Linked DNA regions of Homo sapiens: region 1 is linked to region 2. Evidence: fine-mapped QTL for protein levels in blood plasma. Region 2 holds a variant in brackets. A gene starts in the other region. All regions are shown on their reverse strands.

The links. PIP is the chance, under the fine-mapping model, that this variant and not a neighbour inherited with it causes the effect. Protein levels are from antibody-based Olink assays in UK Biobank. Linkage for the fine-mapping came from a reference panel and not from the study's own genotypes, which makes the PIPs less certain.
Region 1: HMOX1 starts here. The variant in region 2 is fine-mapped to the plasma level of the HMOX1 protein (UK Biobank, PIP above 0.99).

What each region holds. Positions count from the first base shown.
Region 1 is chr22:35,378,578-35,383,952 of GRCh38, reverse strand. HMOX1 (heme oxygenase 1) reads right to left here and starts at 2,857. Exons shown (of 5, transcript NM_002133.3): 1 at 2,757-2,857; 2 at 727-847. The coding sequence starts at 2,779. RefSeq lists silencers at 2,587-2,756, 3,057-3,136.
Region 2 is chr5:69,384,376-69,389,750 of GRCh38, reverse strand. It overlaps RAD17 (RAD17 checkpoint clamp loader component), which reads right to left. Exons shown (of 19, transcript NM_133338.3): 8 at 4,818-4,954; 9 at 3,656-3,708; 10 at 3,446-3,571; 11 at 3,286-3,355; 12 at 606-717. Among named protein-coding and RNA genes, the nearest start is that of RAD17, 17 kb to the right of the region's middle. The variant T/G (reference allele first, on the strand shown) is at 3,042.

The sequences.
Region 1 (5,375 bases), not on the chromosome of region 2:
TTCCCCACGCTGATGTTTTAACACCCAGTATCTTCCCGGTTCTTCATCAAGTGCTTTCCTTCTATTTGCATGAATTTCACAACAGTGCTGGGAAACAGCAAAATCAGTACCTGGCATATAGTGGGTGCTTAAGAAAACCCTGCTGTTGAAATACTCTTTTACAGATGGGGAAAACGTGGCTTAGGGAGATTAGATGAGGCACCCTCAGTCTCACTGTTAGAAAAGGGTTCTGTTAAGACTCCAACCTATATTATTCCTTATCTTCAGAGGCAAATTCGAGTTAGATCAGGAGTACAAGCTCTGAAATACAAGGAGTACAAGGCTGAAATCGGTCTTGGTTGATTTCAGCCTTTTCCACTTACTGGCTGTGTGACCTTCTGTTAGTCACTGAACCTCTCTGAGCCTTCCAGTCCTCATCTTTCTCGTCAGGGTTGAAGCACAGATTAGAAACCACGTGTACAAAATGCCCAACATGGAACCGGTGCTCAGTCAACGGCACTGCTGCCCCAGCCCCTCCACAACATTACAGAGCAGGCTGAACTTGCTGTGTGACCTTGGGTAACTCACCTTCCCTCTCTGAGCCTCAGTGTCATCATTTTTAAGATGATTCTATTGGACATGCCCATCTGGTCCCTCAGCATCCCCACTTAAACCACTGGTCTGAGCCTTGGGTCCACCCACACCTGCCACACCCTCCACCAGGGCTAGTCCCACCAAGCCACATACCTTGAAGCCGTCTCGGGTCACCTGGCCCTTCTGAAAGTTCCTCATGAACTCAGCATTCTCTGCCTGGGTGTGCACCTCCTTGGTGGCCTCCTTCAGGGCCTCTGACAAATCCTGGGGCATGCTGAGGAGGAAATGGGAAAGGTGAACACAAAGCTGGCTGGGGGTGGGGTCCTTCCCAACTGCTGAGCCTCCCACCTGTGGGCAGGCCTTCAAGAGACTCCCATCCTCATTCAGGCCACGTTCTCAATCGCTTTAAGATGCAGCCTTGTGGCTGGGCACGGTGGCTCACGCCTGTAATCCCAGCGCTTTGGGAGGCCAAGGCAGGTGGATCACCTGAGGTCAGGAGTTCGAGACCAGCCTGGCAAACATGGTGAAACCCCGTCTCTACTAAAAATACAAAAATTAGCCGGGCATGGTGGCAGGTGCCTGTAATCCCAGCAATTATGCCTGTAATTGCTTGAATCCCGGAGGCAGAGGTTGCAGTGAGCTGAGATCACACCACTGCACTCCAGACTTGGTGACAGAGAGACTCCATCTCAAAAAAAGAAAAAAAAAGAAAAAAAGGGCCAGGCATGGTGGCTCACGCCTGTAATCCTAGCACTTTGGGAGGCTGAGGCGGGCAGATCACCTGAGGCCAGGAGTTTGAGCCCAGCCTGGCCAACATGGTGAAACCCTATCTCTACTAAAAATACAAAAAAAAAAAAAAAAATAGCCGGGCATGGTAGTGGGCGCCTGTAATCCCAACTACTTGGGAGGCTGAGGCAGGAGAATCGCTTGAACCCAGGAGGCAGAGGTTGCAGTGAGCCGAGATCGCGCCACTGCACTCCAGCCTGGGCAACAGAGCAACACTCCATCTCAAAAAAAGAAAAGCAAAAAAGCAAAAAAACAAAAAAACAAAAAACAAAAAACAAATTCAGGCTGGGCATGGTGGCTCTCGCAGCTTTGTAAACACTCTTCAGTCATTAAAACACTAAATAATACAGTCCCCCAAACCAAGGGGGAAATCCTGGTACAGGTAGTTCGCAGTGGAGAGGAGGAGGAGGTACAGCATAACCCAGGAAGAAGCAGCAGCCCCATGAACCGGCATCTCCAAGTTTGTAATTGCTTTGATTGGCTTTTAGACCCAATATTTAATTCAGTTATTTTGTTAAAGTTCCAGATGCAAATCTCATGACCCCCTATCATGTTATGCTCATCATGAAGGCGTCAGGGTTAAAAAGCCTGAGAAAGTCTGCTTTAGTCAAAGAAAAAGTCTTTCTGGGAGTATTTCTGTCATGGGTCCGTATCCCTGCCTCCCCACAGAATTGTCATTTTTCCCTTTTCTCCTGCCCTGCTTCCCTGTTCTACAACACAGCTGGTCAAAGTCTCAGGAGAAATGGCACATGTCTGTAAGTCCCAGCTACTCTGGAGGCTGAGGTGGGAGGATGCTTAAGCCCAGGAGTTAAAAAAAAAAATACTAACAAATTATTGAAAGAAGGGAATGAGTGAGACCTGGAGGTGGGCAGACCAAGGTTCAAGGCCCAGTTCTGACACCAGCTAACTGAGCACTCTTGGGCATGTCGCCTCCCTGAACTGGGCTATCTGTGAGACATGGAACACCGCAGCCAGGGTGATGTCTGGCTCAGGTCCTCCGTAGCTAGTGAGGGACAGATGCCACCAAGAGAACCAAGCATGCTCCCCCAGGCTGGCAGAGCCCCAGAGATCTAGATTCAGCAGAGAGCAACTCCAAACACACCTCGAAAGTAGGATTAAAAAAAAAATTGGCTACCTCAAAGACTGGATACTCTAGGGACACTCCCATCTTGGTCACCAACCGCATACCAGGGTGCCAGGCATGTAAATTACCGTTCCTCCCTCCAACTACCCTACGGGCACAGGCAGGATCAGAACCCCGCACCTCCTGACTCCAGAGCCCAAGTTTCTGGCTCCTGGGCTCTGTCGCTGTGTGGCAGTGTCCCGGGGTGGGGCTAGGACGCAAGCAGGGTTGGGAGAGAAAGGCGCCCGTCCCGCGTCCCGCGCCCCGCGCTTGCCTGTCGGGTTGCGGACGCTCCATCCGGCCGGTGCTGGGCTCGTTCGTGCTGGCTCCGCGGGCGGCGGCTGCGCTGAGGACGCTCGAGAGGAGGCAGGCGTTGACTGCCGGAGCCGCGGCCGGTCACATTTATGCTCGGCGGGTCACGTGGGCCAGGCGGAACAGCTGATGCCCACTTTCTGGCCGGGCGTTGCAACACCCGCAGGGGCCCGCGCCCAGCCCGCCCCGGGCCAGTGTGGGGTGGAGAGGAGCAGTCATATGACCCTTGGGAAACAAAGTCTGGCCATAGGACTTTTAGAGAAAACACACACACACACACACACACACACACATACACACACACACACACACACACACACACACAAAACCTTTAAGGAAATCTGAGAAGCTGCAGGCTCTGGGTGTGATTTTGCTCCTTCCAGAGCCCCCCCTTCTGCTCCCTGTCCCCTTGGGACTTGATGCACCCCAGGCGTCCCAGAAGGTTCCAGAAAGCTGGGAGGCAGCGCTGCTCAGAGCAATAGCCTGGTGGGCAACATCAGGAACTTAGCAACCCCAGGCTCTGCTGTCTCCAGCTCCCTAAAATGTCACCTGCTGGAATCCTCTGCTGACTGCTTGCCTCCTCACACCCTCTTTAAATGTACATTTAGGATCTGTTTTTTGAGTTCCTGTCAAAAAACAGAGACTCTAGTATTTTCATGGTTCATCCCTACAACTGACCTGTGAGGGTAGATCGCTTCTATTTTACAGATGGGGAAACCGAGGCTCAGAGGGGTGCAGTGGTGTCACACATAAAGCAGGATGCCAGTGTCCAAACCCAGGGAGGAGACTAAGTCCCCGCCTGCCTCCTCCACACTCTGGCAGCACCTGGTATCCGCCTGGACTGGGACACCTGTCATACAAACTGCTTCCCTGCTGGAATGCGTGGGACACTCTTCCAGGCACATTCAGGTCTGACTTATACTCAGTGCCTGCTCAGGGCCCAGAGCAGAGCTGGCCCTTGCTGATCGCCTATTGAATCAATTCTGCATGAGGTGGACTCCTTAGAACTCGGGGGAAATAGGGTCACTGGGTGAACCCAGAGGACAAAACGAATGGACCAGATGATTCATACAGTCCTTTCCCAATACTGTGATTCTCATTCTAAGATTTTTTTTTTAAGATGGCTTTCAGGCCTGGCATGGTAGCTCACACCTGTAGTCCCAGTACTTTGGGAGGTTGAGGTGGGAAGAGCGCTTTGAGCCCAGTCGAGGTGGGAAGATTGCTTTGAGTTCGAGACTGGCCTGGGCAACATAGGGAGACCCTGTCTCTACAAAATATAAAATAAATTAGCTGGGCATGGTGGCACATGCCTGTGGTCCCAGCTACTTGGGAGGCTGAGGCTGGAGGTTCACTTGAGCCTGGGATGTAGAGGCTGGAGTGAGCTGTGACCACGCTACTGTATTCTAACCTGGGCAACAGAACAAGACGCTGTCCCTCAAAAAAAAAAAAAAACAAAAAAAAAAAAAAAAAACTTCCTGGAATTCAGCCTAGGGCCACTACAGCCCAGAGGCACTTCTGAGATTGTATTGGAAAGGATCATCCTCCCAAGGGTGAGCTAAGGGGCCTTGAAAAAAATTCCCCTTCTTCCTCTGAAGGTTCCCCGAAAACCAACCGACAAAAGTCAGGTTAAGAGGAGAAAAGACATACAAAAATGTATTGTAATGGGGTAATCACGGAAGAATGGTGACCCTGTAACCCAGTGGAGTACAGAGGCTACCCAGCCTTTTTTATAGGGGAGAAGGGAGATAGGGAATGCAGACAATTCTTTTGAAAGACAGTAAATCATTAGCAAGAAGGAATGGCCCTGGAGGTGAAAGGCCGACTTTAAGGGAAGGTGGAGGTGGAGCCGCACAGGGACAAAGGTTGTCCTAGGCAGATAAAGTCCCCCAGGTAATCTCTTGGCACTGTCCTCAGAAGAACAGGTAAATCTGTCTGGGTCTGGTGATGACTCCCAGTCTCTTTCTCTCTCCAGTGGTTGATCTTTCCTGGATATTTGATGAGATTACTAGAAAAAGGGCTTAACACTGGCCGGGCGCGGTGGCTCACACCTGTAATCCCAGCACTTTGGGAGGCTGAGGCAGGAGAATCGCTTGAACCCGGGAGGAGGAGGAGGTTGCAGTGAGCCAAGATAGTGCCACTGCACTCCAGCCTGGGTGACAAGAGCGAGACTCTGTCTCAAAGGAAAAAAAGACTTAACACAATTGCATTTCTTTTGTAAAGAAGTGTTCTTGGTCAGATAAGGAAATTCCAGAGAGCGTCTCTCCCTGTGCTTGTCGGGGGAACAAGACAAGCTTACAGGGACCTTGACTCTGAGGCAGCTCCTAAGGCCTCTCATCATGTCAAAGCACCAGTTGTCCTGGTATCACTTTCTGAGCCCCAACAGTGGCATGTAAAGCACAAAGGTGGAGACCTTGCCTACTACTTTGCTTTGTAAATTCCCAGTTCCTGGAATAGTGCCTGGTAGGTCACAGTTAATACTGAATGCATGCCTGAATGAATAGATGCTTCAAGGTCTCTTTCTGGGAAAAAATAATAATATTGTTAGGCTGTAATATTGCTGGGCTGATAGAATGGGCTGGAA
Region 2 (5,375 bases):
GAGAATGCTGTGAACCTGGGAGGCGGAGCTTGCAGTGAGCCAAGATCATGCCACTGCACTCCAGCCCGGGCGGCAGAGCGAGACTCCGTCTCAAAATAAATAATAATAATTCCAAAAGTAAACCTACCTCGGCACAGTATTATTAAACTGATTAATGGCTGGCCATTTATGAACACTTAATATGAATCAAGTACTGTAAGAAGCACTCTATAATAGTGTCACCTCACATATTCTTCATAGAACCCTAAGAGGTAAGTGCTCACATAAAAGGTGAGAAAACAGAGGCACAGAAAGATAAGAGTCACCTGCATAGGCCTATATAACTGGTAAGTGGCAGAGGCAGAATTTTTATCCAGGAAATCTGGTTCTAAGTTAACTTTGAAAGGTAAACTATCTCAAACAGAAACAAGGATATATACTACGACATATTCATAGAAGGGTATGTATGCATGTGTATATATTTAATTTTAAGCCACTGTCTCAGTAATAAAGAAGGATAAATAGGTATAGACCAAATGTAAGTTAAAATGTTTGATTTCATTGAATGAATTAAGAGAAAGTCAGTCACCTATATAATGCCACATGACTGTATCTTCCATAGTTACCTTTTGAAGAAGAAAACTGGAGGCTGTTTATTGCACTTCTGATATCACCAGAACATCCCTGACAGAGCAACTCTAGAGAAGTTTTGTCAGGGACAGTAATTTTTCCTCCATTCTAAAATAAGAAAATTAAATTTAAAAAAAAGTATTTTCTTAAAAATAACAACAACAAAAAACCCCAACCTATTTTCTAAACTTAATTAACGTAAATTAGATTCTTTTAAACTTAAATACTAAAAAGGGCTGGGCACGGTGGCACATTCCTATAATCTCAGCAATTTGGGAGACTGAGGCAGGAGGATCACTTGAGCTCAGGAGTCTGAGACCAGCCTAGGCAAGGTAGTAAGACCTTATCTCTACAAAAAATCAAAACAATTAGCTGGGCATGGTGGCATGCGCCTGTAGTCCCTGCTACTTGGGAGGCTGAAATGGGAGGATCACTTGAGACCTGGAGATGAAGGCTGCAGTGAGCTATGATCTTGCCACTGCACTCCAGCCTGGGCAATAGAGCCAGAAAAAAAAAATTATCTTAAAATAGTAATAAAAAACTAAAAAGCCTTCATGCTAAACACTGGTCTATGAATGATACAAGCTTCAATGACTTATTACAGTTTAAGGTATACTTTCAGGAAATATTAAATACTGTATTATTTTACTTTTTCACTTTGACCAGGTTGTATTTTGAAGTTTTTACTCTTTCTCACTACATACACACAGATATATAACAACATATATGTGTACACACAAAAAAACCCTCAAAATGCAACAGACTGTGATAAAATTAAATATACACAAAATAATCTAACTAATTTATGAAATTTACATGAAAATTCCTTTACTGGGGTTATACATTATACAGTCTGGTGAGGATGAAAAAGCCATAATTACACCAATTATTTCTTCTTCTTCTTTTTTAAACCAGAGCCACTTGAACTAATCAATTCACTAAAAAAAAAATTTTTGTTTTGACACAAGGTCTTACTATATCACACCTGGGCTGGTCTTGAGCTCCCAGGCTCAACAAATCCTCCCACCACTGTCAGCCTTTGTAGCTGGGACTACAGGCATGCACCATGGCTCAATTTGCAGTTCTCATGCTTATAGTAGAGAATGTAGATGTTTTTTTAGAGACAGGGTTTAGCTCTGTCCATGACAGACTACAGTCATTTCATCTAGATCACTGCAGCCTCAAACTCCTAGGCTCCAGCGATCATCCTGTCTCAGGCTTCTGAGTAGCTGGGAATACAGGAGCACACCACCATGCCCAGGTAATTTTTTTTCTTTTTTTTGGGATACAGAGTTTTGCTCTTGCTGCCCAGGCTGGAGTGAAGTAGCGCAATCTCGGCTCACTGCAACCTCCACCCCCTGGGTTCAAGCTATTCTCCTGCCTCAGCTTCCTGAGTAGCTGGGATTATAGGTACCCGCCACCACATCCGGCTAATTTTTGTATTTTTATTAGAGATGGGGTTTCACCTGTTGGCCAGGCTGGTCATGAACTCCTGACCTCAGGTGATACACCCACCTCGGCCTCCCAAAGTGTTAAGATTACAGGCGTGAGCCACCGCACCTGACCCATTAAATATTTTCAAAACACTAATAGCATAATAATTCATCACAGTAATTGCTTCCTGTATTATTGGACTCAGTTTGTTTCTCATTTTTCACTATTAATATCTGTTATTTATTCAGTTAGGTGCTCTACACTAACGTATTTAATCCTCAAAACAACCTCTCCCTTGGATATTTCCCTCAGTTCCTGTGGTCCTAGCAGTGCAACAAAAATTATGTTTCATGCAAGATTTGGTTGATTTATACCAATAGGATTCCCTAAAACCATGACGCTGGGAGCAGAAGGTCCATCAATTTTTTTTTAACATCATCTTGATTTGAAATACAGAAAAAATGACGTACTAAAAGTGAAAAGAAGCCGGGCACAGAGGCTCATGCCTGAAATCTCAGCACTTTCAGAGGCCGAGGAGGGAGGATCACTTGAGCCAGGAATTCGAGACCAGCCTGGGCAACACAGAGAGACCCTGTCTCTAAAAAAAATTAAAAAATTAGCCAGGCGTGGTGGTACCAGCCTGTAGTCCCAGCTGCTTGGGAGGCTGAGGTGGGAGGAACACTTGAGCCCAAGAGGTCGAGGCTGCAGTGAGCCATGATTATGCCACTGCAGTCCAGCCTGAGCAACAGAGTGAGACCCTGTCTCCAAAAAAAAAAAAAAAGTGACAACAGCTGTATATGAATGTAAATAGACTTTACAATACTGAAGTGTATCTTTGAAAATGGTTAAGATGATAAATTTTATGATACATGTTTTTCACCATAATTAAAAAAAATGTGAAAATAAAAAAGTGACAACAGGACAATAGGAAGAGTTGAATTGTTGATAACTACCATACCTACATGCCAGAAAACATTTTCTTGATGACAGACACAATT[T/G]AGAACAGTAAACCAAGCAAAGGAAAAATTTACCTCAATGTGAAAGTGAAAGTTTAATAGTAGAAAAATGTTAAAGATTTTTAAAATCAGTATTTCCTACATTTGCTAAAATGACATGCCTTATGAGTATAATAAAATGTTTTAATTCTAAAAAATTAAAATAACACTCCTTCAGTTTACATAATACTATTTAAGCTAGGCTTTCTATAGTTATCGAGTAAGGTTTAATTAATCAGAGACTTACCTTGTTAGCTTCTATAGTCACTATTCGATTAAGAAATTTCATCATAATTGTTGGTGCCACAGGGTTGAAACTAAGTTTTATAAAGAAAGATAGCAGTTAAATGATTAATTTAAAAATATAATATGTATGTGACCTTTATAAGCAGAAATTTCTTTCTTACCTAATATTTGAGATAGAACACTCTTCCTGAATTTCTTTGGGAAACAATAACCTTTGATTATTATCTCCACTGAGACTGTCCGAGATTATAAATATAAGAGGACATCGACCAATCCTCACATACTTCCTAAAATAACAAAATACAGCAATGTTGAAATTTAAGCCACTTCTCATTTAATTTGGAGTTTTAGAATACTTCACTGAAACCTACCTTAGAACTTCATGTAAAGTATGAGAATCCCGATAAAACTGGTTAGGTAAATCCTATTGAAAATAAAAAATAAATAATAGTATAGTTTTATTCCATTGCAAATTTATTTTTCAAATTTATATTTATTGAGGTAGGCAAAAATATATTTATTCAATGTATTTTAAACAGAACTTTCACAGGAAACATGAAATAGATGATATCCGAAACAGTAATATACATCAATGGGGATCCCAATTTTTAGATCAAATTTCTTTGGGTTGCTTTCCAGTTACAGTATTTTCACTAGGAAGTAATTTTCCAAACTTTTCTTTTGTTTTTCTATACTTAAACCATTAAAATTTATAACATTCCTTATCCTACAGCTATTCCATTCAAGTTTACTAGAAGAGACTTTAGGTTTCTACTATTACAAAGCCTTTGTGTTGTATTTTACCAATATCACTACTATAGAGACAAGTTAACATTATCATGTAAGATATATCTCACAATTGTTTAGTCAATAGCTACAGCAAAATTTTAAAAGTTGGCTGGGTGTGGTGGCTCACATGTGTAATCCCAGCACTCGGGAGGCCAAGGCGGGAGGATTACCTTGAGGTCAGGAGTTTGAGACCAGCCTGGCCAACGTGGCAAAACTCCATCTCTACTAAATATACAAAAATTAGGCCGGCATGGTGGCAGGTTCCTGTAATCCCCACTACTCGGGGGAGGCTGAGGCATGAGAATTGTTTCAACCCAGGAGGCGGAGGTGGCAGTGAGCCAAGACTGCACCACTGCACTCCAGCCTAGGGGTTAAAGAGAGACTCTGTCTCAAAAAAAAAAAAAAAAAAAAGATTTTAGGCCAGGCATGGTGGCTCACGCCTGTAATCCCAGCACTTTGGGAGGCCACGGTGGGCATATCATGAGGTCAGGAGATCGAGACCATCCTGGCTAACACAGTGAAACCCCGTCTCTACTAAAAAATACAAAAAATTAGCCGGGCGTGGTGGCGGGCGCCTGTAGTCCCAGCTACTCCGGAGGCTGAGGCAGGAGAATGGCGTGAACCTGGGAGGCAGAGCTTGCAATGAGCTGAGATCGCGCCACTGCACTCCAGCCTGGGTGACAGTGACACAGCAAGACTCCATTTCAAAAAAAAAAAAAAAAAGATTTTAAAAGTTGTCCTTACTTCAACCAGAATTATCTTCTTATCAGTTCTCAGATCATCTCCAAGCATTTGTAACTTGTTATACTTTGTCGCTCTTAGTAGAAACTCTTTGAAAACTGCTATCTGAGACTGATAGGGAAACATATGGAAGCTTGATTCTGAAAGGAAACACATAACCACTTTTATTTTCAACAAATGATATACATTAATATTATACATCTGTATGTACACACACACATACTTGATGCATCTCACAATACTGTAGACTATTTCCCAATTAGGAAAAATCATTTAAATTTAAAATAGGATATTCCTTTCAAAGGACAAGAGTCAACATGTAGCCAGGCACAGTGGCTCACGCCTGTAATCCCAGCACTTTGGGAGGCCGAGGCAGGTGGATCGCTTGACCTCAGGAATTCAAGAGCAACCTGGGCAACATGGTGAAACCCGGTCTCTACAAAAAAATACACAAATTAGCCAGGTGTGGAGGCTTGTGCCTGTAGTTCTGGCTACTTGCAGGGCTGAGGCAGAGGGTGGGGGTAATAGCTTGAGCCCAGGAGGTGGAGGTTGCAGTGAGCC